Linked DNA regions of Homo sapiens: region 1 is reported to be linked to region 2. The links are microRNA targets in miRTarBase. Many come from high-throughput screens and were not tested one by one. Region 2 holds a microRNA gene; the other region holds the end of a gene's coding sequence.

Evidence for each region. Region 2 holds the annotated microRNA hsa-miR-933 (UGUGCGCAGGGAGACCUCUCCC, at 965-986, opposite strand). A microRNA usually pairs through its seed, bases 2 to 8, with sites in the 3' UTR of a target mRNA and lowers its output. Matches are read on the target gene's strand: a 7mer-m8 pairs with bases 2 to 8, a 7mer-A1 pairs with bases 2 to 7 and ends in A, and an 8mer does both.
Region 1: miRTarBase lists SOX5 as a target of hsa-miR-933. The part of its 3' UTR that is shown has no 7-base or 8-base seed match.

The regions. Positions count from the first base shown.
Region 1 is chr12:23,531,091-23,534,502 of GRCh38, reverse strand. SOX5 (SRY-box transcription factor 5) reads left to right here. Exons shown (of 15, transcript NM_006940.6): 15 at 1-3,412. The coding sequence ends at 284. Among named protein-coding and RNA genes, the nearest start is that of SOX5, 420 kb to the left of the region's middle.
Region 2 is chr2:175,166,678-175,170,089 of GRCh38, forward strand. It overlaps MIR933 (microRNA 933), which reads right to left and starts at 1,032; the gene lies at 956-1,032. ATF2 (activating transcription factor 2) reads right to left here and starts at 1,526. Exons shown (of 14, transcript NM_001880.4): 1 at 1,373-1,526. RefSeq lists a silencer at 1,475-1,544.

The DNA of each region.
Region 1 (3,412 bases), not on the chromosome of region 2:
TTGCCACTGCTGGTGTTGTGTACCCTGGAGCCATCGCCATGGCTGGGATGCCCTCCCCTCACCTGCCCTCGGAGCACTCAAGCGTGTCTAGCAGCCCAGAGCCTGGGATGCCTGTTATCCAGAGCACTTACGGTGTGAAAGGAGAGGAGCCACATATCAAAGAAGAGATACAGGCCGAGGACATCAATGGAGAAATTTATGATGAGTACGACGAGGAAGAGGATGATCCAGATGTAGATTATGGGAGTGACAGTGAAAACCATATTGCAGGACAAGCCAACTGATAAGGGTCAAAAGATTGTTGTGACCTTAGGACTTAAAGAAGCCCTAACTGGTTCATCCTTACCAGTGGCCAAGCACATTAACTTTCTCATACACTGACTGTTACTTTAACTGTTAGTCTTAAATAGTTGGGACATCAGCTGACTAATAGACCTCAGCCTCAAAAGGCTTGGAAAGAAAAAACAAATACAACAAGCAAACAACAATATCAACAACAAGAGATTGAAATAAGCTATGGGTAAAATAATGCCAGTAATTCAGCTGCTACATCCAAGCACTGAAGTCTTACCCGTCAACTTTTTTTTTTTTTTAAATAAACTTTATGGCTGTTTGTTCTACAATGTTCTAGAAATTCTCACTCAGGTACACAGTGCCAACAAGTGGCTTGTGAATGTGTTTTGTTGTTTTGTGCTACAATTTTTAAAAAGAAAAAAGTTTTGTTTTGTTTTTTGGGGTTTCTGGGTTTTTTCCTTTTCTTTTTCTTTCCTTTCATTTTTTTTCTTTGTAATGCACCTGACAGAAAAAAAAGAAAAATGAATTTCTCTTTACTTCTCTCCACCTTCTCCATCTCTCTACTTTAAAGATGGAAGTCTGTGCATGAGGGGAAAGAGGGAAAAAGAGCCTGTTTTTAACTTCCTTGCTATCCACCACAAAATAAGCAATTATTTTCTTTAGAGGACTTTATCTATTGCACACCACACTACATCTTTGAGCAAGTGCCAAATTTGTACTGAAGTGTTGACCAAGTTCATTTTTTCTCTTTACTTTTTCCTTTTCCTTCTTAAGTTAGGACAGTGTTAAATCTTAGACAATCCCTTGAAAAACCTGAAATACCAGCAGCTGGTGAGATTTGACTTTTTTTTTTAATGGAAACTGTAGGTGCTGTTCTCAGGTGAAAAGAGAGAGAGAGAGAGAGACATAAGAAATTTAGAGAAAAATATTTTCTGATCTTGGATTTTTGTGTGTATGTATGTATGTGATTATGGTACTAATAATAGGAATAACGTTGGACCATTGTGAGTTAAACCCACATCTGGGGATGAAATCCCACATCCTCCCAAGTGACTGGTCTAGAAATAATCTTGACCTTGACTTTGCACTTCAAATGACAACTTAACCAAGTATAGGGCTCAGAAATTATATTTTTAAATGTCTGATTATTATTGGATGGATCAGGTGGCCCTGTGTAATAGAGGTGTGCATGTATAACATGGAAGCTACTAGCAAACTGCTCCCAGATGTCCTTTCTCCCTGGTCAGTTGGTTCCATTAACGTTTGCTACTTAGTGATTTTTGTTTTTCCTGTTGATATTTTGAGCAAAACAATCATTGTTTTCATTGAATATATTTGGCCATTTTTTCAGACAAATAGAATTAGCTTATTTCTTCAACATTCCATCCTTTCCCGATCAGGAAATGAAACTGATGATTTTATAAGGTATTTTTCACCCCTCCATGAAGTGAGGTGGAGGCCTTTAGCATTTCAGAAGTGTGGGCCATATGTAGTTCATGCCATAAAAAGTAGGATTTAATTAAAAGTCATTGCAGCCCAATAAAATGGAGCCTGGCTGCACCCAGGGATCCTTGCCACTGCTCTTCCCTTGCTGTCAGATTAATCCACTGAAGTCCAACTTTGGTTCAAGCAGAGTATTTGCAAAGAGCAACAACTGAATGTGATGGGACTGCTTATGTAGATTTTGCCAGCCAAATGCCAAGGCAGTTGTAGGGCCTGTACAAATAAATGCAAAATCATTTCAAGTCAATTGCCATTATTTGTATTGAAGTATCAGATAGATAGTAAATACTGCAACTAGTAGCTTGATGTGCTATAGTTTTCACTCCAGTCATCATTTTCCTATCTCACCCCCCGAAACACCACCCTAAAGTTGGATTTTTACATATAAATAAAAAAAGAATCCCTTTTATTTTTCTCTCTCTCAGAAGACTTGCTCTGGGGTTTTGCTTGGAGGAGCTGATCATATCCTGCATGTCAGAGATTTCATTTTGTTTGTTTTTCTGTTTGTTTGTTTTTGATGACTTTATTTACATTTGAACTGCCTCTTTTTGCTAGTGTTGTAATGATGATGATGATAAAATAATAATAATAATAGTAATAATAATAATAATGGTCAGCTGTTCCCAGATTAGTAAGTTATGTATAATTTATTTTATTTCTCCCTTTCTATTTTATTCTGCTCTGATTTGGAAGTGCAGCCAATAAGCTGTTAGATATTTAAAACAAATTTCCATCTCCAACTCATATATGTATGTATATGTATATATATATATACATATATATACACACATATACACACACACACACACATTTACCCACAATTTTACTTCTCTTTCCGTAAGTTTTCTCTTTTTTAAGAATTTTGGCCCCAACAATATCAGTTCTGATGTTTAAAACAAAGGAGTGAATTAATAGGAGGGTCGTGTTCAATCTTAATTAACTTATGCTCTCATCACTCATTTTAGTTATTTAATTGCCACAGTCATCTAGAGCCAATTTTTTTTTGTTTTTGTTTGTTTTGTTTTTAAGCACTCTGGATAAGGAAAAAATAGACACTTGTTTTTATATCATTTTTATGTACAATGTGAAAACAGATTTTTAAAAAATTTGTTCTCTGTCTTTGTTAACAAATTCCTTCCGATTTATGTGGGTTCACCTCTCACGTTTGCTGGATACTTACTTTACACCATGTTATGAAAGATGCTTTGTTTTCATTTCATGAGTTTGGGCTACAAGAATACTTTGTTTTAGCTCCAGGTAGATGCCATTGAAGGCATTCATGGCTGAAATCAATTCTAACACACTTACCGATGAATTGACAACACTTTGGTGTTTGGTCTTTTTTTTGTTATATTTTGTTTTATTTGAAGGGGAAAACAAAATTGTTAATGGTGACTTTTAACTGCTGAAATTCAAAATTTGATTTTAGTTAGGTTTATGTCCGAGACTAAACTGTGCATGAACCGAAACAAAAAGCAAGTTCATACCGCTGCATTCTGTTCTCTTGTTCTGACGGTTAATTCACTGGACATCAAATTTTCTTTGCCCTAGTTTTCCCCAAAAGAAAACAAAAGCAAAAATAGTTATATTAATGTTGAAAGTGCTTTGAAGTCAC
Region 2 (3,412 bases):
GAGACCAAAGCTATATGGCTATTTAAAGATCAGAACGGCTGTTACTCACAATGATAACGCCAGTGGTCATGTTTCTTCAAATAGGACAAAAAGTGTGCTCAAAGAAAGTCAGTTTTTGTTCTGATTTTAAATGTATATCTTAAATGCATGCATTGTGACCGTCTCCATAATTTAAAACCTCTAAGAAATTTAAACTTTCACATTATAATTTAGGGATTAGTCAATCCCTTAGTACCAGTTAAATAATAGCCAGGAAAGCATTAGAAAACCTGAAGGTACATGTAAAGAAATGCTTTACATCACTATTTAAAATAGGTGTTGAATTTTAAGAGAAACATTTCTTTCACTAAAATTTCTGATGCCTAAGGTCCATCAGGAGTAATCTCTTTTACTCCATGATATTCACAGTAGTTTTGCTCTTGGCCTCACCAGTTTTAAGACTCTCCATTAAAGAAAGCCAATTTTATACTACCTAGGGGCACAAAAATAGTTCCCAGCTCCTCCTCTCTTTTTCCTCCTAGGTTCGGTTAAACGAGCGAACATAGAAAACACGTACACACACTCCCTTTCGGCCCTGGTCCCTAGGGCATTGATGAAAAGCAAATTATTTCTTTACATACGCTCTGCTGTCCACCCAGAGATTTAAAAAAAAAAAAATAAGGGAAAATACCAGAATCAGTCTGCACCCACACCTAAGCCCCGCCCCACCGGGAAAAAGCTGGGGGTAGCGGGATTGTGAGGGTGGCGGAAAGGACGGAAAAGGCCGAGACTTCCAGCTCCTAGGTTCTCCACACCATTCTTTCCTTCAAGCTGCACCGCAGCCAGGGACCCTGATTCTATTTTCAGCCGCGCCTCCCGATCCTCCTCCCCGCCACCATCACCAATACACGGTCCTCAATCGCTTGAATACTGGGTGGGGAGACCAGAGTGGGCCCTCTCCCCGCCCAACCCAAGGACTGTGGGTGGGAGAGGTCTCCCTGCGCACACGGCTGACTCGACGCGCGCCCCGAGGACCTCTGAACTGACCCAAGTAGGGTGAAGATAATTCGGAGGGAGGGGTCTAAGAGGGAGCCGTTATTCCTTTTTCCTCTGCCTTAGGAAAGCGCGCGAGAGGGAGGGGCCGGAACAACGAACGCTGGTTACCTAACGGTCCGGCCCAGCCAGTCAGGTTCCCAAAGCCCACACCGCGCGGGCCGCCGAGGTGGCAGCACAGCCACAATCGCCCCAAGGGCTAAGGAGCACGTCAGGAGCACCCGAGGTGATGGGAAACGGGGGGTGGGGACTGTGCTGAGCGACGTCGCCATGTTAGCGCCTTCTTTCTCCGTATCCCTACAGTCTCCAGCCCTGCTGACCTCTGCCCATCGTTACTCACCTTTCCAGGTCACTAGTTCATGATCCTTTCGGTCACCCGCGAGCCCTGAGCACAGCCGTGTTTACAAAGCACCCCTGGAGGAAAAGGCTGAACGGCACTTTAAAGGCCACGGGCTCCCACAGGCTTCCGTCCTCTCTCGCGAGATCGGACTGACAACCCCCGCCCGCTCGCCCCGCTCCCGGCATCCCCACCTTCCTTCTGGCGCCCCTCCCCTTCACCCACACGCCCCTTCTTGCCTTCCTTCTGAGGGAGCGCCTCCGAGTCAGGTGATTCCGTCAGGCTTAAGGAGAAGAAGGCGGGTCTTCGGCAGGGCGGGTAGAGGGGACGGGCATCAAAGAGCACTCGGGCGCTCATGATTGGACAAGGAGCCCGAAGGGCGGGAAGCAGTTCTGGAGGGGGCGGGACCAGAGGGCCCAAGGAGCGTTACTTCTGTAAACCCGGAGCTGTGGAAGACTGTGATTGGCTGTCGGCTGGAGGAGGGCGCGGGTGCAGGCGGCGGTGAAGGGCTAGGCAGGGCTTTGGCGGTGTGAGGGGAGGAAAGGTGGTGAGCTCCGGAAAGGCTGCTAGAGGGAAAGCAGGATGGGTCCTCCGAGCCCAGCCCCAGGAGCCGGGTGTCTCCGTTTCCGTCACTTCCCAGCACTAGGTAGGGAGGTGGGTAAAAGTAGGCTGCGTTCCTCAGCCCACCCCTTGGCTCCCCGGGAGCCTGAGGCGGGGAGCTTCGGGTTAGGTGAGGTTTGGGGGAGGCGGAGTTTGCTGGTAATTGCCCATCCCTCCCCTCCAAAAAACCCCACACAACTTAAAGATTTTAATATTAACTGTAAGGATGTTGGTTATTCAATAAATAGGCACAAGTTGAAAAGTATGATCAGAGGCCTCTGTGAGAATTTACATTATTCAATAAAAGATTTTCAGTGTCTTATTTTTTCCATTTATTAAATACTGATTTCTAGTCTGGAACAAAATTATGAACTAGTTTATATATTAACATAAAATACACTCTCAAAATTGTTGAAAGGTTTTGGGGGATAGTATGAGAGTTAATGAGCCTGAAGTTCAAGAATGATATCTGGCATAAAAGTGAAATTGTAATGGCATTGACATTTTAACAGGTAGGTCTCTGGACCGCATACATGTGTATAAGCCAACTCAGTCCTCTTTTAAAACTAATTTTAGTTAAGAAACATTAAGCCAAATTATTAACACTTTCCTACTTAAAATGAAAGTACCGTCCCCATATAGTAACAGTAATGTAGTAGTGCCATTGTAGTGTAACACTAATTATGTCAGCAAAACCTCACAGTTCAGATTACTCATGATGGAAATGGTGGACAAAATGTTTGATTGACATCACAATTGTTAGGTCTAGAACGCATTGATTAAATAGATGCTTCTCTCTCCATCTCCCAAAACAACTAATGTGAGAAAAAGAACTGCAAATGTTACGACATTTCAAAAGAAGTTTGGGTCAATTAGAATAGATTTTTTTAAAAAAATTGTTTTTCCATTTGAAATTTTTTCCAGTGTTGATTCAATTGGGCAGTAGCTTTGGTTTTAAATTTCTCATTGCTACTTCTCCAGTCTGTTGTCAAGCAGTTAGTTATCTACATGATGCATTCGAGAAACACATTATTTTAAAGAAAGTCTTTCAGTTCTTTTTAGACAAGAGAAGAACTGTTTAGTGATATGAACAGTACTCTGATCTGTTTTGATAATTCAGTTTTAGCTAATTTTCTAAAGAGAGGGTATACCTAAAGTGAGAAAAAAAAATAAGATAGGCGCAGGAAACAGGTGGAAACTATGCCGATCTGTTATATATGCATTTTGGCAGCCCGGCATTTAACAAAGGGTCTCACTTTATCCACATATTTCTAGTTCCACAGCAGTTTGTTTACTATAGTTTTTCTACAAGTGGGGAAAACATTCAGCATTGTCAAAATGAATGTAGTTACCATATTCAGGTCTGATTCCATGAACTTGTCTCACTACTTATTCATATCCTCATAAAATGCCACCCTTTTCCATCTTTGTTCTCACTTTTGC